3 linked regions of the Homo sapiens genome follow. The protein of the gene in region 1 purifies or fractionates together with the protein of each later gene. This does not show direct contact. Each region holds a gene or a part of one and is shown on either strand. Other genes may lie near its edges.

Region 1 (8,013 bases):
GGAAAGGCGTGCCCTTGACGGTGACTCATGTCCGTGACCCACTGCCAGCACTGGGATACTTAATGTGCCCGCAGAAAGAGAAGGGCCCACTTAGAGTTAACAGATTCTTAAGAGCCAACAAAGAGTTTTTCTGGGTGTAGAATACCAAGTACAGCAAGGGAAGTGACCTTGAAAAAAAAAATGGAAGTTCCCCCCAGACGAGGTCTGGCTGGCTGTCTGGGGCCAGCATGCTGACCTTCAGGTCTTCTGGCAAAGAATCAAGGTGGCCCGAGTGAGAAAACAAGTTAGTCATAAACAGACCACCACGCGTCTCCTGGCTGACTGCGGGCACCTCGGGTCTACAGAGAGCCCTGCCAACTTCTACTTCCTGCAGCCACGAGTGGACCAAGAACATGGCAGCCATTCTTCTCATAGACTAAAGCAACTTTAAGATAAGGCATTTGAGGAAGGGGAGCTTTATGCTGACCATTCATCATATTCAGAAAAAGCAAACAGTGGGAAATTCTTTGCTACAATCACTGAAATGTCACGAGACAATGTCATAGTGCGAAAGGGAAGCCCTGCAATTCAACTGACCCTGGAAGCCTGCTGGAATAAAAGTCACAGCTGAGCCAAGAGAATTTTGCTTCTATTGAAGAAAAAGTGCTTTCAAAGACTCTGTCAGAAAATCAACTCATAATAGTAACAGTAGCGGCCATGCAGCGAGGGTTGTTTGTGTGGCCACACAGGTATTCCTCTCATCTGAACTACATGGAATTATCATCCTCCTTTCAAGAAAAGGGACTCAGAAGGATTAGGAACCCCATCCCAGGACACACCGCTGGCAAAGGTCTGAGGCAGGATCCAAAGGCTCAGGTCTGCTGGAAGCCAAAACACAGTGCTTGACTGGCTTGGAGACCTCACTTGTACTTGAACTGAGCCACCCACACGCGCTTCCCCTGTACTTACCCCCGGAGAGGAGTATGGCACCGTGCTCGTCCACCAAAGTCAGAGAAGCTATGTCAGGCAGAGAGGTGGGGGCTGCCTCACAGACAGCCAAGGCGTGAAATAAACACAAACACCATTTTGTAATCAATGATTTTTATCTCTGAAAATGGAAGCAAGTGTTTTGACAGAACACTATGGCCACTCTATAAGAGCCGACCTAGGAGTAATTCACTGTCCTCTTCTGGGATGTCATGGCTTAAAAAAAAAAAAAAAAAAAGACAAAACAGGAAAATAATCCACAATGCTTTGGGCGCCTACTCTGAGCTTGGCTGGGCATCCATTCATTAAATAAGTCATAAGCTACAAACTAAGATCAGGGTAACTTTCCCTTGCCCTCCTGCTTCTCTTTGAACCACATGCCCTACGGTGTTTCACCACCATCAACAACTTTACTTCATTAATTCGATATCAGAACCTTAAAACACTACTGAATCTTAGACAAAAGGTCCTCAGCAGATTACATTGATAAAGAAACAAATACAGATTTGAATATAAGTCATTGCCATTATTGTTTTCTTTACATCTCATGATCCACTTCAATATTAAACACATACATACACACACACAAAACCACATCAAACATTCAGATGCCCTGAAATTGTGGAGACAGCACTCCCAGTATTGGCTGGATAAGAACATGGTCCTTTTTCTACACGGACATTACTCCAAGTTCGGCTGTCACCACACTCTGCCCTCACCCTGGCTCCCTGCATACAGACGTTTCCAGCCAGTCCCATGCCCACACCAGCACGAGCATGTGCAAGAATTCCCTTCGTGGTCCCAATGGCACTACACATTTCACGTTCAATCACAGACAGCCCTTCCAAAACAGAGGCTCCTTAAATCTTGTTTCCCAAGCATGCACTATAAGAAACTGGAAACGGGGCAAAGTTCCAGCTAACCGAGGAATGAACAGGTGACCAGAGCTCAGTCTCTGGCCCCCTCCGAGTCCGGGGAGCCTCTGTGCTTTGACGCAGCCTTGGTGAGAGATGGAGAGGCAGGGCAGGTTAGTTGTGCGGAGGGACATGTTTGTATGCATTAAAGCTACAGCAGAGGTCTGTGCTCCTGTTTCTGCTTCACTCTCTATCATTCTCCTCAGTCTCAATACTCATTCAATCGCACCCTCTGGCCTTGTCTTAGCTTAATGTGGTTAGAGCTAAAAGGCAGGAAGGAAAGAAGGAATGGCTGGGGGAGCCCTGAGAGAGGTCGCAGCACATGTGAGGAAGAGGGTAGAGCAGGAGCTTTGTTGGTGGAAGGAGAGCCACTTCCTCCTCCAACACAGCATGGGGACAGCACAGGGAAACAGGATCACCCAGGGCAAATACCCCTCTCCACATGCCCACATTTTTAGTCCCCACCACTGTACTCAAGAGCTGGGCAAGCTGCTGAAAAGGGCAAGAAGGAACACTCAGCAGTACACGTCTTCCTGTCCTGGGCACCCTTGTCAAGTATTGACCAAAACCTGAAACATGATGTTTAAAGTGATGAATGCAATATGATCCTAGGTGTGTAACAAACTGCAGAAACACATGCTAGTTTGGGTTAGATTATAATCATCTGAAGCACAGGATAACCGAGAAGCAAAATTCCATTCTGGTACAAACACCCAATTTCTAGAAAAGAGAAAGGAAAAGAAGAAATACGACGTGAGCTTTTTTGATCAGAAGACTCCATGAAATGAGAGCGGTGGTAATATGAATCCACGTGATTTTTCAAGTCTTCCTGTTGTACAGTCATCAAAATGACCAGGTTTGTGCTGCAAAGGAGCCAGCACCATGTGGCTACTGCTTTGATTGTTCTCAGATGAATGTTTATACAAAATAATATCTTATCTTCATTTAGTTTATAAACATACACAGTGCTGTCCCTTTCAAATTAAGGAAAAAAAACCACACACACAAATACTGCAAAGTAGCAAAATACAAAGGAAAACAAAGCTACTTTTGGTTTTGGCAACATTAAAAAAGAAAGAAATATAAAAAGCAATGTGGCATTGGTCCCTATTCATTAAAAAAAAAAGGGTACTTGGGCACGACACAATCAGAATTAGTTTGTTTTCTAAAATTCAGAGTATCTGGGATTTTAAAAGTAGCACTTTTTAAAAAGTTCAACAAGTCACATAACACTTAAAACATCAAAAAAGCTTTCTGATAAAAAGCTCAGCTTTTAAATCACGTTTTGTTTCTGCAAATTTGGGAGACAAATTGAGTTCTTACTGGAATGTGGCCTATCGCTGGTTGACAAATCTGAAATGGAATGTCTCCAAATGGCAGTGCCTCCCTTTCCGCCCTCCCTAGGACCACACCAATAACCAGCTCCCAAGCACAAGTTCTTGCTCCCATTTTTTCTGTAGGGGTGGGGGTGGGACCTTCAGGCTGCTATCTTTGCCATCTGCTGTTCTAACTTGGAAATACGCTCATCTTGATTGCAGATTGTGTCTTTTATAGATTTGATCTCTTTTAAAATCTCATCCAACTTGGCTTCATTTTGCTAAGAAAACAAAAAAAGGAGGCAGTGATTAAAATGCAGTAAACAAAGTTCAACACTGTTCAAAACTTGTAAGATATAAAATGTAGTTTTCTATTTTGCAAACGGCAAGCCATAGTCACCAAGTTGAAAAGAGAAGTCAAAGCCCTACTATGTCTGGGGCTTTGAATGCAATGAGCACTGGCCGATCTATCTGAGATCCCGTGGCAAAACAACAGTGTGTCACAGTGTCACAGTGCCACTTCTGATCCCGAAGCCTGTGCATTTACTCAAACAAAGGGTCTCCTGGGTCACAGTTAGACTATAGGACAAAACAGGCTCCTTCAACAGTGTCCTACGTCCTAACCACCCCAATCATTCCATCAAGAGTAACTTCTATCTGACCAGAGAGAGGGGTGACTCTCCCAGAGGCTACAGAGCTCCTGCCATCTGTGAGGCTCCTTCTTGGGAGGGAAACCCTTGCCCTGTGTGTCCACTCCTTCTCTCTTACCCAGGACCTGCTCTCCCGGCAACAGCAGCACTCTCCAGTGGCCGCAGCGAGTCAAAGGCAGGCTTGATTCCCAATTCCCCACCCAAAGGGCTCTTGCCTAAATCCCCCTTGTTGCCAGCCCCACACCGCCAGATCCTTCTGTCGTAGCCACTCAGCTACATCTGAACACGTGCCACTCCCTCCTTCCAGGGACCTCCTCTCCCTGGTGCCTATGACCCCACACTCCCATGATATTTTATTTCTACCCAAATCAGAGAAGGGTTTAACTAGTTTGGCAAAAGACAGGAAAAACCCAAGAGGCTCCTGTTCACACTGAGAGATAGGAGGAAACTGATACCTATCCCAATCATGGTGGTCTGTGGCCACACTTGGCTCCTTTAATGGGGCTAAAGGAGCTTTAACTCCGTTAAAGGAGGCAAGTGTTGCCACAAACCACCACCATCACGTGACCGAGGACCTTCTCCCACTTTTTCATTTACTGAAAACCCCTGAGCACCCAGCTGGGACAGTACTCGCCGACGCCCTGGACCACAAGGGCTTTCTAGAGGATAAAGCCTGAACCAGCCAAGCACCCCTGCACTCCACTGGTCCTCACCACACTGGCCGTGTCTGTGGTTTTCTTGGGGATGCTGATCAGGTCGCACTTCTTGTTTGCAGTGGGCTTGCTATCCAGAATGTTCTTCTTGACCACCTTGAGATCCCTGTTTTTGCCTGGAATGTACCCGTGCTTCAAGGAGATGAGGATTGGGTCTGCATTCTTGCCTTCGAACCACTCTTCTGCCTCCAGCGCGGCCTCTGGCCCCGCTGTGTCAGGATACAGGTCATCTTGGAAAAGGTCAGACTACAAGAGACATTTGGCACCCGTGGGTAAGGAAGAAGAAAGGCCTGGGATTTTTGAATTTTATTTTTACATTTGTTTAAAATATGGATTGTCTAGAAAACTCAGCACTCACCTTCCTGGGAACAGTCATAATAATAGGTTCACACTTTCTCTCATGAAGTTTGAAGAATCTTCAGAGGGGAAATAAAGGCAAAGTTGCATTAAGTGAAATATGAGGCTGACTAACAGGATGAATAATTAGTTTTCTACAATGCTGTCTGAAATGTCAAGTGCTTCTTTACCCATCCCCACATCTGATCCACCCCGGGAATAGGCAGAATTTAGTGTTCCCGGTTGACAGATGAGAGAACGGAAGCTGAGAGTCACTATGCTAGGAACTGGCAGACTGGAGACAAGAACCATGAGTAGAGGTCTACGTATGATGATGACAAATGCCAATTATCTGGGGGACAGACCAACTGTGGTGGAAATAATAGCAACACTGAAACTGACTCACTTATGAAAAAATTACCATGTCAACCTACAGGAGAGAACACACATCTGTTAGATTGTATCTACAACGCGGGTACAAGGTCTTCTGCCAGCTTGAGGTGGTTGAACATATAAGTATAAATATGACTTTTAGAAAGCAAAAGAAAACAATCCTAGGATTATGATTTTCTCATCCTAGCAAACCACATCGTACATGACACTCAAGAAAAATGTGAAACTATCCAAAATGTGGAAAGAGAATGTAAAGCCACTTGCACTGTAATACTGGAAGAAGGGAGCAAAGAGCTCTGTAATGGGGAAGAAAGGTATAACATTTTTATTTGTATCCTACAAGAGAACTAAACAGACCAGAAATGACTTCTCTTATGATGACCCTGATAAGGTCAAGCCAATTTTCTTTTTCAGTCAAGACGGGAAACAACAAAAAAAGTCTCTAAAGCTCCTGGCAAGAGAGGTAGCCTTAGTGAGCATCCTGGCCAGATCACCAGATCAAACGGCTGGTGTGCAAGGGGGGAGTTGAATGTGGGCGTCAATGCTGCTGGGGAAATGTTTTCTGAATTCCAAGAGTTTAAGTCAGAGAAGACACAGCCACATCAAATATGCAAAACCATTTCTCCTGGAAACCTGCAGCCTTTGGCATCTGAAACTGGGCAGGAGTCCATTGAAGACAACCTGGCAGATACACTGCTCTAACGCATCAGGGGAACAAAAGCTGAGTAGAGCTCAGGGTGGTAAAGGTTTATAAAATCATCATCCTCTTTAAAAGGAAGGTTGTGTCAAATGTGCCTCTTTACTATTTCAACCAAAAACTAAAAGAGTCCCAGATAAACCAAAAACCTTTTTTTTTTTTTTTTTTTTTTTTTTGGGACTGGGTCTTGCTCCATCGCCCAGGCTGGAGTGCAGTGGCACAAGCTCATTGAGGTCTTGACCTCCTGGGCTCAAGCCAAATCCTCAGCCTCTGGAATAACTGGGACCACAGGTACGTACTACCACACCTGGCTAATTTTTTTAATGTTTTGTAGAGACAGGGTCTCACTAGATTGTCCATACTGCTCTTGAACTCCCAGGCTCAAGTGATCCTCCCACCTTGGCCTCCCAAAGTGTTGGGATTACAGGGTGAACCACCACTCCTGGCCCAAAAACATTTTTAAAGACTGATTTAATGAAAATTCTGTGGTTAGTATAGCCAATAAAAAGACTGACTTGGCTTTGACTTCCAGCTCTACTACCAAAACCCACGAGAGTGTGACAACCTCACCAAGCCTTAAGTTCTTCATCCATAAAATGGGGATAAAAGTTACACCTACCACATATGATTGTTATGAAAAGAAAGAGGTAGCAAGTAGCATATTTAGCACAGTCCTGGCATACAATAAATGCTCAAGAAACACTTCATAAATCGGAGACATTCTGAACAACTGTGTTTATAGTCTGTCGAACTTTTAGATGACAACAAATGTGTTTCAAAATATTGGATGTAATCATAAATTTGAATTCAGTCTATTTTGAACCATATTTTGATTAGTTTGGTTTAAACCACAATTTTCAATTATCTTTAACAGCTTTCCTTCATTATTCCAACTAAAAAAAAAAAATCACATAGAGAGTTTTGGTTTGTTTGTTTTTGTTTGTTTGAGACGGAGTCTCGCTGTGTTGCCCAGGCTGGAGTGCAGTGGCACCATCTCGGCTCACTCCGCCTCCTGGGTTCAAGTGATTCTCCTGACTCTGCCTCCCAATTAGCTGGGATTACAGGCACCCACGACCACACATAGCAAATTTTTTATTTTTAGTAGAGATTAATATAAAAAAGGGGCTTATAAAAATTCTCTTCCTTTTATTTGGAAGACGTAAGTATCAATTCTTTAATTGTGAGACCAGAACAGCAAGCGTTTTAAAAGTCCACATAAACACAGTGTTACACAAATGTTTGGTACGACCTTATATGTGATGATGTAGTGCTAATTATTCTGTTGTTTGAAATGGCCAGTGGTCACTGAGTCTCAGAGGATATATTTGTTGACTAGCATGAGAAAAAAGCCTGTCCCTTAGGAAGCCTGCTAGCATTTAGAATATGAATTTTCTAAAAATCAGAAGTAGTACAGAGAGGTAGAAATTATATCATAGCTGAACTTCCTAAATCAAGCTAACCTACCGCCCCATTATAGGACCTTTGGTTTCTCTATTTTAGGACCAGTGGGGCCCCAAATACAGTTTTGACTCTGGTTCTTCCACTCATAGGGTAGGAAAACCACCCACTTTTCCATCCCCGAGCCAGGCTCTCCCTACTTGCCCACCAGGGAACGCTGACCATGGCCTCAGCTTGAAGATTAAAGATGCATGTTTCACTATTTCAGTAGGTGTGCAATACACCCCAGCTATGCTGCTTCATTGTTGCACTTCAGTTATATGGGCAGGAAATGAGGTATTAATTCCACAGTACACACAAGGATAGAAAGACTTGGGCTTCATAGAATTTCTTGTAGCTGTATTGCTCTGGTATCACCAGGCATTCAGGTGATGATAAAAAGTGAGATGTGCCGGGTGTGGTGGTGGGCGCCTGTAATCCCAGCTACTTGGAAGGCTAAGGCAGGAGAATTGCTTGAACCAGGGAGGCGGAGGTTGCAGTGAGCTGAGATCACACCACTGCACTCCTGCCTGGGCAACAGAGCCAGACTCCGTCTCAAAAAAAAAAAAGTGAGATTTTTTTCTTTTCTTT
Region 2 (7,863 bases), on another chromosome or scaffold:
TGTATTTTTAGTAGAGACGGGGTTTCACTGTGTTAGCCAGGATGGTCTCGATCTCCTGACCTCGTGATCTGCCCGCCTCAGCCTCCCAAAGTGCTGGGATTACAGGCGTGAGCCACCGCGCCTGGCCCTATTTACATTTTTACATTTAGATAAATATATTTAGTAATACCGGGTAACATAATTTCATTCTCTGTGTACTGCTCCGAGAACATATCATTGTGATAAGACTTCCATTTTATACATAAGAAGCTGATATTCTACAGGATTTAACTACAGTAAAACTTGAGAGAATCAAGAGCTTTTAATACTTTTTTAATTTAAAAAATATTTAAAATTTAGAGTTGGGGTCTTGTATGTTGCCTAGGCTGGAGTGCAGTGGCACAACTGCAGCTCACTGTGGCCTCTAACTGCTGGGCTCAAGTGATGCTCCCACCTCAGCCTCCCAAGTAGCTGGGACTACAGGTATGTGCCACCAGGCCCGAATAAGTTTTTATTTTCATTATTATTTTTTGAGACAGAGTCTCACTCTGTCGCCCAGGCTGGAGTGCAGTGGCTCCATCTCAGATCATTGCAAGCTTGGCCTCCACCGCCCCCGCCCACGGGTTCAAGTGATTCTCGTGCCTCAGCCTTCTGAGTAGCTGGGACTACAGGTGTACCTCACCACGCCCAGGTAATTCTTTTTATTTTTAGTAGAGACGGGGTTTCACCATGTTGTCCTCAAACTCCTGACCTCAAGTGGTCCACCTGCCTCGGCCTCCCAAAGTGCTGGGATTACAGGAGTGAGCCACCACGCCTAGCGTAAGTTTTAAAATTTTTTGTAGAGATGGGGTCTCACTATGTTGCACGGGCTGGTCTGGAACTCCTGGCCTCCAATGATCCTCCTGTCTCAGCCTCCTGAGTTGCTGGGATTACAGACATGAGCCACTGTGCCCGGCAGTTACAAATTCTTGTATAGTCTGTTTACGCTGGGCCCAGTGGCTCACACCTGTAATTCCAGCACTTTGGGAGGCTTAGGCAGGTAGATCACTTGAGCCCAGAAGCTCGAGACCAGTATGGGCAACACGGCAAGATTCCCCCCCGGAAAAAATTACAAAAAATTTAAAAATTGGCCAGGCATTGTGGCATGTGCTATAGTCCCAGCTATTCCAGAGACTGAGGTGGGAGGATCACTTGAGCCTGGGAGGTTAAGGCTGCCGTGATCATGTGAGACCCTGTCTCAAAAAACATACAAAAAATAAATAATACATAGTCTAGTAAGAGCAGACATTGCAAGGAAAGGGCAATTAAAAATTTCAGGGTGGGAGGAGGAAGCTATATAAGAAAGGAAATGTAATCATAGTCTGCACCCTCTTTAACAAGCATTTATTTAATGTTAGCTACACTGTGTTTACTGATGAATTCCAACTGCCTAGAACAGCGTCTGGCACATAATAGGTACACAGTAAATGATCAATAAATATTAAAAGTTTTGCTGTTGACTTAACAGTATGATACCATGATTGTTTTAAAATATATTTAATATTCAGAAAAAGTCTGTTTTTCTATGGCTCCAGGCACCACACATTCTTAGAATTAAGGATGAAAAATAGTACCTGAATGTGATACATGACAGTAATAAAACAAAGGTAGACAGAAAAGAGCAATGTACCTCTTGATAGAAGGCTACTATGCACACCACTTGAATCACATGAGGCCAGAAGTTTGAGATCAGCCTGACCAACATGATGGAAACCCATCTCTACTAAAACCAACAAAAATTAGCCAGGTATGGTGGTGCATGCCTGTAATCCCAGTTACTTGGGAGGCTGAGGTATGAGAATCACTTGAACCTGGGAGGCGGAGGTTGCAGTGAGCTGAGATCACGCCACTGCACTCCAGCCTGGGCAACAGAATGAGACCTGTCTCAAAAAAAACAAAACAAAACAAAACAAAACCCAAAAAAACAAAAAACCAACAACAAAAGAAAGCTACTATCTACAAGAAACTCTTTTGTTTAATGCGGTAAAACTTAGCAAGATCTTATGTAGCTCTCCAAAACATAAAAATTTGGTATTTTCAAAGATCTCTACAGCAGCCCTGTTGGAGATGACGCTGATGAACCACATTTAATTATAAATAGCCTAGGACATTCTGCCATCCAGAATTTCACTTGTCTTTTTTTTTTTTTTTGAGATGGAGTCTCGCTCTGTCACCCAGGCTGGAGTGCAGTGACGTCATCGCAGCTCACTGCAACCTCTGCCTCCTAGGTTCCAGCAATTCTGCCTCAGCCTCCCAAGTAGCTGGGACTACAGGCGCCTGCCACCACGCCCAGCTAATTTTTGTATTTTTAGTAGAGACGGGGTTTCACCATGTTGGCCAGGCTGGTCTCTAACTCCTGACCTCATGTAATCCACCAGCCTGGGGCTTACAGGCATAAGCCACCGCACCCGGCCCCACTTAGTCTTTTAAAAACAGAGTTTTTTCAAATATGTTACAGTCATGACAATCAGATTAAAGCTTTTATGAAAAATTCGTCTGAAATGAGGAAAGTTCACACTCCCAATGCCACCTCAATTCCTATCCTTTCACCTCATGTTTACATTTTATTAATAGAAACTACATAAAACATATTATTCAGATGTCTTCTTACAAGCCCACAAACCTAGTCTTAGTTTATATTGAGCCACCAAGGTAAGGGCATTTTTCAGGTACAGCTATCCATTTCTAAAAGTATAATACAATTCTTTTGGATTATTTTATTTTATTTTATTGAGACTGAGTCTCACTCGGTCATCCAGGCTGGAGTGCAGTGGCGTGATCTCGGCTCATTGCAACCTCTGCCTCCTGGGTTCAAGCAATTCTCCTGCCTCAGCCTCCTGAGTAGATGGGATTACAGGCGCTCGCCACTGCACCTGGCTAATTTTTGTATTTTTAGTAGAGAAGGGGTTTCACCAAGTTGGTCAAGATGGTCTCAATCTCCTGACCTCGTGATCCACTCGCCTCAGCCTCTCAAAGTGCTGGGATTACAGGCGTGAGCCACGGCACCCAGCCTGGATTACTTTTTAAGGCAGAAGTTAGCATGATATGATAGCATATGCAATAGATAACCCACTTGCTCACAGCTATTTCCCCTTGGCAGTGGTTGATAGTGATGAACTGGAATACACTTCCCACCCTTAAAATGAACAGAATTCAGGAGTAGTAGTTCATTTTTTCTCAGTGTCTTCTTAAATAATGTGACCTAAGACATGGAGGAAAAACTACCTCAGAGGAAAAGAATAACATCTAGTATTTTTTAGTATTTTCAAACTAAAACATAACACACACACCACGTGCACACACACACACACACACACCTCTCACACACTCTTCTCTCCCAAATCACAAACTCTCTTTTAAGTCAAAATCCAGTTTACTTGATACAAACTTAAATGATATGGAAGAGAATCTGTTCTCATCATTATCCCTATTGTTCCCACATTTCTGTATAACATCTGTCATGATCGCCAGCCTAATGTCAGTCATAATTTACACAAATATCTCAAATATGGGAATTAAATACTATTTTGATATTAAATTATTATGCCTACCTCCAAGTAATAAACAGATATAGTCAAAAGTATCCATTTATCCGGATGAAAATGCTCACTTATATGCGTATAAATTATCTCAAAAAAATTATAGAATGAATGAATGAATGAAAAGAGAACCTACCAGTTTGTAAGGTTCATTTTTGGCATGCTGAATGCAAATAAATAAGTTTACTAAGTGAGAAATCGTAAGAGAAGCTGGAGGTGGCAGGAGGAGCCTGGGATGGAGCATAGGTCTGATCCTAGTGCAGGGAAGAGGCTGCTAAGGTTGACACGTCTCCCCTCTCCTTCAGAGCTACACACACTGGACATACAACATGGCAAAGTGGCAAATAATCACATCACTCAAAGTCTTCCAATTATAATCGTTCAGATGGGTAGTTCGTATCTTAACATTCTTATGAGTATATTTTAAGCAACAAACATTTCCCAAGTTAGAAGACAAAAACTGAAATCCCTGAAACTATAAAAACAACTGTAAACCTACTATTACTGCCTAACAAAAAAAAAGACTTTTCATTCAAATTAAAGATTATCAATCACTTATTAATAAAACTATTCTGCTTGAGCAGTAGTTTATTGGAAGCAGATGTTGCCATAGAACTCAGCACCAGTTTTCATACAGGGTATATATTCATCCATCAAGATAGCAAAAATTGCACTATTTCACATTACTTCAAAAGTGAAAACATTAACAGTTATAATAACAAGAACTAAAATAATTGGCTGGGAATGGTGGCTCACACCTGTAATCTTGGCACTGTAGGAAGCCAAAGTGGGTGGATTGCTTGGGCCCAGGAGTTCGAGACCAGCCTGAAGCTACAGAGCAAAACCCCATTTCTACAAAAAATACAAAAATTAGCCAGGCGTGGTGACACACACCTGTAGCCCCAGAAACTCGGGAGGCTGAGGTGGGAGGATCACCTGAGCCCAGGGAGGTTGAGGCTACGTTGAGCCTTGAGCCATGATTGTACCACTGCACTCCCACCTAGGCAACAGAGTGAGACCCTGTCAGGAAAAAAAAAGGCTGAGTGTGGGGGCTCACACCTGTAATCCCAGCACTTTAGGAGGCCAAGGCAGGAGGATCATTTGAGGTCAGGAGTTCGAAACCAGCCTGGCCAATATGGTGAAACCCCATCTCTACTAAAAGTACAAAATTGGCTGGGCGTGGTGGTGCATGCCTGTAATCCCAGCTACTTGAGAGGCTGGGGCAGAAGAATCACTTGAACCTGGGAGGCGGAGGTTGCAGTGAGCCGAGATAACATGAATACACTCCAGCCTGGGAGACAGAGTGAGACTCTGTCTCAAAAACAATAATAAAATAAAATAATTAAAAAAAAAATTATACTGGCTACTCTGGGCACACTGCCTATGGGGTAGTCCTGCTCTGCAAGAAGCAGTAAAGAAAAAATAAAAATTATAATTTTTAAATTATATTATTTTTTGTGGAGACAGGGGTCTCGCTGTTGCTCAGGATGGTCTTGAACTCCCAGCCTCAAGCAATCCTCCCACCTTTACCTCCCAAAGTGCTGGGATTATAGGCATCAACCACTGTGCCTGGCCCCAATTTTTCAATAATATAAAACTGACAATCTGATTACTTCTGCAAATAATAATAATAATCAGTATTAAAAAAAATCTAGACTGGGCGCAGTGCTCACGCCTATAATCCCAGCACTTTGGGAGGCTGAGGCAGGCAGATCACCTGACGTCAGGAGTTGGAGACCAGCCTGACGAACATGGAGAAACCACATCTCTACTAAAAATACAAAAATTAGCCTGGCGTGGTGGTGCACACCTGTGATCCCAGCTACTGGGGAGGCTGAGGCAGGAGAATTGCTTGAACCCGGGAGATGGAGGCTGCAGTAAGCCAAAATCATGCCACTGCACTCTGGCCTGGGCAACGGAGCAAGACTCTGTCTAAAAAAAAAAAAAAAACTAAACCATGATGTGATAAAATACAAAGAAAACATTCCTTTCTAAACTATCATTTGGTATCATTGGTATCATCTTAATCCTTGAAATTCCTCCCCCATGTCAATCATTTTAAGACTTGGTGACTTCGTTCTTTCATTGTGTGCAGTAAGGCTGTGTTTAAGAAATAGATTTTACCATATATAGTTTCCTCTTCACAGCAGTGTGGTTTAAACTAGTTCCCTTACTTCCCACTGAGTCATCAAATGGTAAGAATATGAACAGTATAATGTTCTTTCAAGCAAAAATGAAAAATTCTATCTACATCTGCTCTAAAAGTACATTTTTTTTTTCTCTTCAAAAAAATAATAACCTGGGATTTATAAAGCCCCATTTGGGCTTATTTAATATTTATTTTCCCCTTACTAATTTTATCTCATGGTACTGATGTTCTTTAGTAAGTTAACTGCACAGTGACTGTTCTGATCTTAGGCCACCAAAATATTTATTCTACTTATACCAAAGCATTTTGCAAGATGAAACCAAATTTGGTTTTGGTTTGTTTCTGTTTCAAACACTCCTAAATTCAACATATAAAGTAGCATAAGCCCGATAAAGCAGGCCACAATCAACTACAAATGTCAATTACATAAATGCAAATGCAATTATTCTAGCACTATAAGCTTCTCTGTACGACTGGACCTTATTAAGCACTGTGCCAGCAACATAGCACGCACTGGAGAAACCTTCATTTTGTTGGTGATCTAACTCAATGCTGATGAAATCACCCTAGTCTGGTAACAAGACACGTAACACCAGGGGCCTGGGCCTAGCTCGTGAAGAGGACCTAAACCTAGAGTTTCACAGACCTCCAGATTTTCACCTATCTGGGCCACTTTAAGTGGCTTGATTTCAGAAGGAGGTTTGAATGGTTAAAATCCACATAAATTATTGGATCAAATGAGTTTTCCTCCTCTGGGCAACCCTACTGAGACACTGGTCAAGCTGGGAGATAGAAAATCAAGCGGGACCAACATTGGTCATGTGATCGTAAGTACAAACTTGTTTCCAGGCAAACTTGTCCAACCCATGGCCCACGGGCTGCATGAGGCCCAACACAAATTCACAAACTTTCTTAAAACATTATGAAATTTTTTTGGTGATTTTTTTAGTTCATCAGCTATTGTTAGTGTATTTCATGTGTGGCCCAAGACAATTCCTCTTCCAATGTGGCCCAGGGAAGCCAAAAGACTGGACACTCCTGTCCTAGAATATTTAATTTGGGTCTGCCAGAGAGGTTAAAAGAATCGTAACTTTTTAAAAAGCCTGTAATTTTATTTTTATTTTTACTAGATATGGGGTCTTGTTATACTAACCCAGGCTAGTCTCAAACTCTTGGCCTCAAGAAATCCTCTCACCTCGGCCTCCCAAAATGCTGGAAATACAGGCATGAGGAACCACACCCAGCCAGCCTACAATTTTAAAACCTAAGGCATGTAAGGAGCAAATGAAAACACCTTAGGATAACAACTATTTCCATAAATTTGCAAAATTACATCTGAATATCTTCTTTAATATTTAATTATAAAGGAATCATTATAACTTCAGGTATCTAAATAAAATCAAGATGATTATTCATGTCTACAAATGGTAAGAAACAGAATACACAATCTAAGCGGTTCCTAGTCCTCTACATACTCAGAACTATTACAGCATTCCTGTTATATGATTCATGTATTTTAACAGCACTGTTTCTTCATTTGAAACCAATCATGTCCATAGAAAATCTGCATAAAATTTTAAAATAACTAGAAGCATAAGAACAGATAAATTTTATTTGAATTAATTACACTCACTTTTTTCATTTATGACAGGAATTGATCACTTGTCTTAAGGAAAAGAATCTTAAAAACATGGATTAGACACAAGACTAATCAATAACATACTACAATCAGCTTTTTTTTTTTTTTGTGACAGTCTCACTCTGTCGCCCAGGCTGGAGTGCAGTGGCGTGATCTTGGCTCACTGCAACCTCTGCCTCCCAGGTACAAGTAATTCTCCTGCCTCAGCCTCCCAAGTAGCTGGGATTTCAGGCATCAGAAACCACACCCGGCTAATTTTTGTATTTTTAGTAGACACGGGGTTTCACCATGATGGCCATGCTGGTCTCAAACTCCTGACCTCAAGTGAACCTCCTACCTCGGCCTCCCAAAGTGCTGGGATTACAGGCATGAGCCACAACGCCCAGCCTAAAATCAGCCTTCTAATGTTAGCTAACTAATGGAATAGTAACATAACATTAGCTTCTGACAGCAGGGTGCAGTGGCTCAAGCCTGTAATCCTAGCACTTTAGGAGGCCGCAGTGGGCAGATCTTTTAAC
Region 3 (7,505 bases), on another chromosome or scaffold:
GATACATAGCAGCAAAGCTCTCAGCAGTATGACAGCTGATTCAGCCTAAAGCATTTAAAGCACATTTTATAACATGGGCTCAGCCATAATACACTTTCAAGATCTGGAGGAAGTAGCCTTATGGTAGAAGGTCCACCAAAGAAATTGCCTTTAAAAAAAAAAAAAAATATATATATATATATATATATATATATATATATTTTTTTTTTTTTTTTTTTTTTTTTTTTTGAGACTGGGTCTGGCTATCTTGCCTAGGCTGGAGTGCAGTGGCAATCATGGCTCACTGCAGCCTCGATCTCCCAGGCTTAAGTGATCCTCCCAGCTCAGCCTCCCAAGTAGCTGGGACTACAGGGATGTGTCACCATGCCCAACTAATTTTTGTACTTTTTGGTAGAGACAGGGTTTCACCATGTTGCCTAGGCTGGTCTCAGAATTCCTGGACTCAAGCTGTCTGCCTCTCCTAGCTTCCCAAAGTGCTGGGATTATAGGTGTGAGCCACCCTCCCCAGCCCGTCTTAACCTCTACTACCTTATTTGGCAGGAGCCAGTGGTCCCCCCTTTCCTCCACAATAACTTATTTTTGTTTGCACTTAATGAGTTGTCCTATAGTAGGTCTAATAAAATGTGTGATATAATTGGCAGTGCTGTTCACTTTAAGAGCAGCTTTTGATTAAATTGGGCTCCTTCCCCATATTTAGACTTCAGTGATCATAATGCTGAGCTTTGCATACCATTAAGAGTTAGTGGGTTTGAGTAAAGGTGTTTTAATAATATTTTAAATAAGTACCAGTAAGTACTAATAATATTTTTTTTGTGTGTTAGAGGTTACAATCAAAAGTTTTAAAATTAGTTGATATATCCTATGGTGGTGAAAATGGATTCAACCAAGCTATTGAGTTATCTACTGAAGTCCTCTCCAACGTGAAATTCATTCAAGAGAAGAAATTAATAGGTATCGGTGAAATGCAACTACTTATTCTGTGAAATGTTTTCGTGTGTGTGTGTGTGTGTGTGTGTGTGTGTATGTGTGTGTGTGTATGTACGTGATTGTATGTATGAGACAAGGTACCAAAAATGTAAAAAGGAATATTTAGTATTTTTATTAACTCTTTTGCCTCAGTAAAAGCATTATTTTTTATCTTCTTTAGTCATTAGGTCGAATAGGTGTGTTTGTATCTACTAGGGAAACTTTAATATATATCCTGTTGACTGATCCCTAATCGTAGGACGATACTTTGATGAAATCAGCCAGGACACGGGCAAGTACTGTTTTGGCGTTGAAGATACACTAAAGGCTTTGGAAATGGGAGCTGTAGAAATTCTAATAGTCTATGAAAATCTGGATATAATGAGATATGTTCTTCATTGCCAAGGCACAGAAGGTATGAGAATTAGAAAATAAGGTTGCTATTTGTTACTGAGCCAGGAAGCCTGGGGTGGAGATTTGGGAGGGATGGCTGATTTCAGGAGCAATCAGAAGGTAGATCTACCCATTGTTCCCCAGTCCTTCAGTCTGTAGCACATTCCTGCATAGATTTTTCTGCTTGAACTGTTTAACGTCTGCTTAAGATTGTTACATCTGCTGAGGACCAGGACTATATCTTGAACATCTCTGATGTTCCTTATGGTTGAAGCATTGTACCTAGTAGACACTCAGTGTATGCTAACATGTTTATGGAAAAAATGTTGAGAGATTGAGTCCCTGAGCCCTTTTCTCATCTAACCTCATCTTATGGAGCTTACACAGATTAGTATATGAGAGCCAGGTTAACACATTTTTTCCTCCTAATACTACAGAGGAGAAAATTCTCTATCTAACTCCAGAGCAAGAAAAGGATAAATCTCATTTCACAGACAAAGAGGTATGTGATTATTTTCTTGGTTTGATGATACGTGCAAGCGTAAATCCGTGTGTTAGAGTACTGGCTGTGTAGAGGGTGAGCTTTGGGAAACCAAACCTTATACTAATTGGGGGTGCTGTGGGAGGTGGTCATCTATCTGCCACATACGAATCTGATTTCAGGGAAGGAGCTGCAGCTTTTTTTTTTTTTTTTTTTTTTTTTTTTTTTGAGACAAGGTCTTGCTCTGTTGCCCAAGCTGGAGTGCAGTGGCATGATCTCGGCTCGCTGCAACCTCCACCTCCTGGGCTCAAGTGATCCTCTTGCCTCAGCCTCTCTGGTAGCTGGGACTACAGGCATACACCACCACGCCCAACTAATTTTTGAATTTTTTGTAGAGAGGCGTTTTCACCATGTTGCCCTGGGCTGGTCTCAAACTCCTGAGCTCAAGCAATCCACTTACCTCGGCCTCCCAAGTGGTGGGATTACAGGTGTGAGCCACCATGACCGGTCTTTTTTTTTTTTTCTTTGAGATAGGGTCCTGGTCTGTCACCCAGGCTGGATTCAGTGGCACAATCATAGCTCACTATAACCTCGAACCCCTGGGCTCAGGCAATCCTTCTGCCTCAGTCTACTGAGTAGCCAGGAGTACAGGCACAAGCCCTCATTCCCTTTTTTTTTTTTTTTTTTTTTTGAGGTGGAGTTTGCTCTTGTCACCCAGGCTGGAGTGCAGTGGTGTGATCTCGGCTCACTGCAACCTCCACCTCCCGAGTTCAAGCAATTCTCCTGCCTCAGCCTCCCGAGTAGATGGGACTACAGGCGCCCGCCACCACGCCTGACTAATTTTTGTATTTTTAGTAGAGACTGGGTTTCATCATGTTGGCCAGGCTGGTCTCGAACTCCTGACCTCAGGTGATCCACCTGCCTTAGCCTCCCAAAATGCTGGGATTACAGGCGTGAGCCACCATGCCAGGCAGCCTAATTTTTTTTATAGAAATGGGGTCTTGCTGTGTTCACCAGGCTGGTCTTGAACTCCTGGGCCCAAGTGATCCTCCTACATTGGTTTTCCAGAGTGGTGAGATTACAGACGTGACCCACCATGCCTGGCCTGGTTTTTGTTTGTTTGTTTGTTTTTGTCTTTGTTTTTAAGTAGTTAAGCAATCAGGAAAACATTTCATTATCCTTGAAATTTAATAGGGAGGAAAATGTAATTTACATAATGCCTCTCCTGCACTGTGAAACCTGTGCTGCTTTCTTCACTTGATCAGCTCTTCCACTGCAGTGGCTTCTCTGGTTTGCTCTAAGTGCATCACAACAGTTGAAAGTATGACCCTCCCGTATGAGATAGGTTTAAATGATAGCTTCCTCAAATTCTGGTTTGGAGAGCTTTGTTCTCTACGAGGCCACTCCCAAAAGCAGTCCTGGAATGTCTCTTCTGAGCCATTGAATGGGTGCTGCTTAGAGACACTACAACAGCCTGACTTCTAGAGTCAACAGTAGGAATCATAAGCTGAATACCCACTGAGTTTTTGTGTTGGTATTTCATAGCTGAGGGTAGAGCCTGAGGAGAAGTGTTGTTTGAAATAATCCGAATTTCTCTGCTGATATCCATTAGGTTATCAAAACCAGAGATGACTTACAGAGCTTTACACACAGACATGCCTATAAATGGGAGGATGAGAGTGATAGGTGGGCAAGGGGCTGTGAGAGGGACTAATTAGCCTTCATATATCCTAATCCCCCATTTTTGTATCTCATGGTCATCCCTGTAGACCGGACAGGAACATGAGCTTATCGAGAGCATGCCCCTGTTGGAATGGTTTGCTAACAACTATAAAAAATTTGGAGCTACGTTGGAAATTGTCACAGATAAATCACAAGAAGGGTCTCAGTTTGTGAAAGGATTTGGTGGAATTGGAGGTGAGTAGCAAATCAGCAAACCAAACTTAAAACCAGGGTCTCAGGTCAAGGTCCCTCCTGGCTAGCCCTAGCCCTGCTTCCGGTGAGGTGCTTATTATCTGCTGGGATAGGTGATTGACGCAGCAGGTGCAGGTTCCTAATTTGGACCCATGTTTATTATTACCTCTTTGCTTTCTGCAATTCTGCAAGAGAATAGGGCTTCCCTTATTCCCTTACCAGCCACCTACACACATGCCCATCCCATGAACACAGGTAATTTACCTTTTGGTTTGTTTCCCCAGGTATCTTGCGGTACCGAGTAGATTTCCAGGGAATGGAATACCAAGGAGGAGACGATGAATTTTTTGACCTTGATGACTACTAGGTAGTCGACATGGGTCCGGCAAAACGTGCCTCACCCTCCAGCATCCAACCCAAGGAGCATACCCATGGTGGAATCCAAACAGATCCCTGCCTTACAATTGGAACATTTCCAGAACTTAATCCATGAGCATTGGATATTGAAAAGAAAACCGAAACAAAACCAGACCCAGCCCTACACTTTGGTTTGTCATGGTGTCAGCGCAGCAGCCTACAACTAAGTTCCTAAACGCCACTTTGGACTAATTTAAAAAAGAATCCCAGTTTTTACTTTTACTGGATGGTGAAATTGGTTGCTCTTGTATTTTATGAAAAAAAATGATTTTTTTAACCTTCATACATAGAAGCAAAAATACTTTAACTGCTGTAAACCTTCAAAAGTTAATAGAAGTGAGATCATACTGGTTTGTTTCTTATTTTGATTGGAGAAAAATTAAATTGCTGCATTTCGCAGTGACCCATTTACATGGCATTCTCAGCTTAGACTGCGTAAGAAGAAATATATGTGGTGAAATGTTGGAACCATTTCTCTCTTGGTCTCTGTTTAATGTTGAAAGGGTGAGCTAATAGGAGGCACTTTCAACTTCACTCCCTCACGCTACCCCGTCCCCCTCCAGACTGGCAGTTTCAAGGATGCAAATTGCATTGCAAAATCAAACTGACTCATGAAGCATTTGGGCCAGTGCACTGTTTACTTCCATCTGTTTGCAGACACATTTGTGCCCGGCGTTTGGGAGCCCTTTGTATCAATGTTCTGACAAGGGTCCCTATAACCTTAACCTACTCGAAACCGGTTTGGGATGGATATGATGGGGCTTCTGTGCTATTGCTGGGATTGGGAGAAATAAAACATGCAATTTAAGTGGAAGCGAAGAAATTTAAAGAGGATTTTATTTTGCTTGGGTCAATCCTTGTTAAAAGGGAGGTGGATGTGTTTTCCTTGTGTTGGATGGCATGAGATTATGTGAATGTTTTGATTTATTAAAATGAACTGCAAGGTTTTTCACAGGAACGACAGACATGTATGACTGCATGTAATTATAAACTCCTGACCTCCTGGTGGGGTTGGAGCATCTGTTTCAAATGTGGGACTTACAAGCACTTCTCACATGAGAAATTAGGGGCGGGTGGGAAGGGATGGGACACAGCTTCTGGCACCATGGATTTAAGACCATGTTGGATCCAAAAGTTGGCCTGAAACCCTGAAGCTTATGCTTCACAGCTGGGCTGTAAGTCAGACTTGAACCCAGCTGATATGCAAGGTCATGGCGTGCCCAGGGTGGTGACAGTTGAACAAAGTGTATAGTACGTGCCCAGTGGTAGCGATGGAAAAAAGTATACCAAATGGACTTTGAAGGACCAAAGGTTTTAAAAGTCAATTGGTATCACCTCCACACTGACTAGGGTAGTGGGGTGCATTTGGTTTTCAAATTGGGTACTTTTAACACTTTAGTGCCTGACTGCTGTTCTTTACTGACTTGATTCAGTCACTCGTAGCTTTATTGGTCTGAACCAGCTCCTTGTTCCCAGGTTACAGACCTGCCTATCGTTCCAATAATCCTGTTTCACTTGAATGAAGGGAGTATGTCTTAAATGTAAAGTTTCTGGTTCTCACACTGTACTCTGAGGTCCAAATACTGTCTGTCAATGTGTAACCTGATGTCTCAACCCCCTGTGAGAAGAGTCCATTATTTGGTGTTCACCAACGTGGGAGACTTCACCGGAACAGGCTTTTTTGCTTTGGGCTCTGCTATTTGTTTGCAGAACACCCAAGAGCGAGCAAACATGCTCTCTTCACAGCAGTACCTTAGGGTTTTGCCATTGTAAATGGGTCTGATGTGATATGACAAGACCAGAGAAATTGGATGTAAATTTACATTTTTGAATATGCTTGTTGTTTCACATGATACATTTAGGGTATGCAGCTCCTTTTGTAGTTTTTATTTTTACTATTTAAGTTTGGAAATGATGCCAAATTTTTGTATTTCTTTAATCAATGTGTTCTCTTCGGTGATATATATTGCATTATATATTGATGTGTGTATCAATATATATTGATATGTATTACACTTACACATACAAACACATATAAGAGGGGGTGAAAACCGTAGCCTTTGCATTCTCTATAGCCTCTGCAGAGAGATACTAAGCAGCAAAATCTTGGTGTTGTGATGTACAGAAATGGAGAAGAGTATTAAACCATATTTAAGAATATACTTTGTGTGCTTGAGATTTTTTAGGACTGGTCTAGAAAGGCCTGAACTGTGGAGACAGTTCTCCAAGGCATACCTCAGATTAGTCACGGCCAATAGCATTTCAGCCTTGGGTTTGAGTTGTGTTTACTACATTTGTCTATGGAAAGGTATATGCAAAGTTTTTCTGAGGTCATGATCCCAGAGTTATGCTAGAAGAAGAAGGTTCAGGTTGCTGGGGCCAAACTAATTTGTATTCTCCCCCATTCTATATGCATGCCAAAGGGAATCTTGCTTTTTTTTTTTTTTAAGGTATGTTAAGTATATTATCCCATAACCCAGCATCCCATGGAGGTAGATGGTGTACCCAATTTTACAGGTGATGAAACAGAACAAAAGAAGGTTAAGTAGCAGCTCTTTAGTGATAACACCAAAATTTTATCCCAGGCCTTATTCCAAAGTTCTCTCTGTATCTGTCTTTGAGTCCTATAATAGAATGGTCCAGATGGAATAGCAGAAACTAGGCCTGGGCCCTCTCTCTCTCCCACGCTCCTTCATCTTACATACCTTACACTGGGTAGGAGAGTAGTAGCCCACCCAAAAGCAGGTCAGGGGCTGGTCCAGAGGAGCAGGGCTCCTAGGCCAGGTTCAGAGCAGAAGAGGATTTGTTTTCTTTGTTTTCCCCCAAGGTTGAGGTGCTTAAAGAGCCTCTTTGGTAGTTTAGGAAGCCTAGTTGAGGAGCCAAGGTGGTGCATGGTTTGCTTTCTCCAGGTTTGAGAAAACTGTTTTAAGTAAAATTGACCAGTAATGGCACTTGGCGTACTTTTCACCCATTTTCTTACCTGATCTAGGTGATAGCTCTGACGACGAAACTCAATTACCAGCTGGGAAGGGGCGAACATGCCTGTGCTGGTGGAAGTGTAATTTTCCCTCCTAATGCGTGTCTAGGTGCTGTTCTTGAAGACAAAATTGTTGGAAGGCAGCACAGTGGTGCAGGATATATGGGCTGTGGTCCTTGCCTGTCTGGGCCTGCAGCACTTGCCATCTTTTGTTCTCTGGCTCCAAGACGCATGCCATGACACTCCCAGACAGGCACGGTGGATTTAGGGCTGAGAGCCAAGGTGGAATTTAAGTTTCATGCCAGCTTCTCCTTTGTTGCCAGCTTGAGTGAATGCCAGGGGATTCCTGCCTGCCAA

The links. The genes of interacting proteins can lie anywhere in the genome.
Region 2: the proteins of CORO1C (region 1) and ACTR2 fractionate together in Homo sapiens (co-fractionation; 3 studies listed by BioGRID and IntAct, with this or other methods). This does not show direct contact.
Region 3: the proteins of CORO1C (region 1) and ETF1 fractionate together in Homo sapiens (co-fractionation; 2 studies listed by BioGRID). This does not show direct contact.

Annotation. Positions count from the first base shown.
Region 1 is NC_000012.12:108,644,046-108,652,058, forward strand, and holds the end of CORO1C (coronin-1C), read right to left. Parts: intron 4,976-8,013; coding exon 4,918-4,975; intron 4,806-4,917; coding exon 4,560-4,805; intron 3,478-4,559; coding exon 3,358-3,477; 3' UTR 1,064-3,357; downstream 1-1,063. UniProt on the Homo sapiens protein: Plays a role in directed cell migration by regulating the activation and subcellular location of RAC1. Increases the presence of activated RAC1 at the leading edge of migrating cells.
Region 2 is NC_000002.12:65,230,642-65,238,504, reverse strand, and holds part of ACTR2 (actin-related protein 2), read right to left. Parts: intron 1-7,863. UniProt on the Homo sapiens protein: ATP-binding component of the Arp2/3 complex, a multiprotein complex that mediates actin polymerization upon stimulation by nucleation-promoting factor (NPF).
Region 3 is NC_000005.10:138,504,921-138,512,425, reverse strand, and holds the end of ETF1 (eukaryotic peptide chain release factor subunit 1), read left to right. Parts: intron 1-821; coding exon 822-951; intron 952-1,225; coding exon 1,226-1,381; intron 1,382-1,796; coding exon 1,797-1,861; intron 1,862-3,609; coding exon 3,610-3,757; intron 3,758-4,038; coding exon 4,039-4,121; 3' UTR 4,122-6,331; downstream 6,332-7,505. UniProt on the Homo sapiens protein: Component of the eRF1-eRF3-GTP ternary complex, a ternary complex that mediates translation termination in response to the termination codons. The eRF1-eRF3-GTP complex binds to a stop codon in the ribosomal A-site.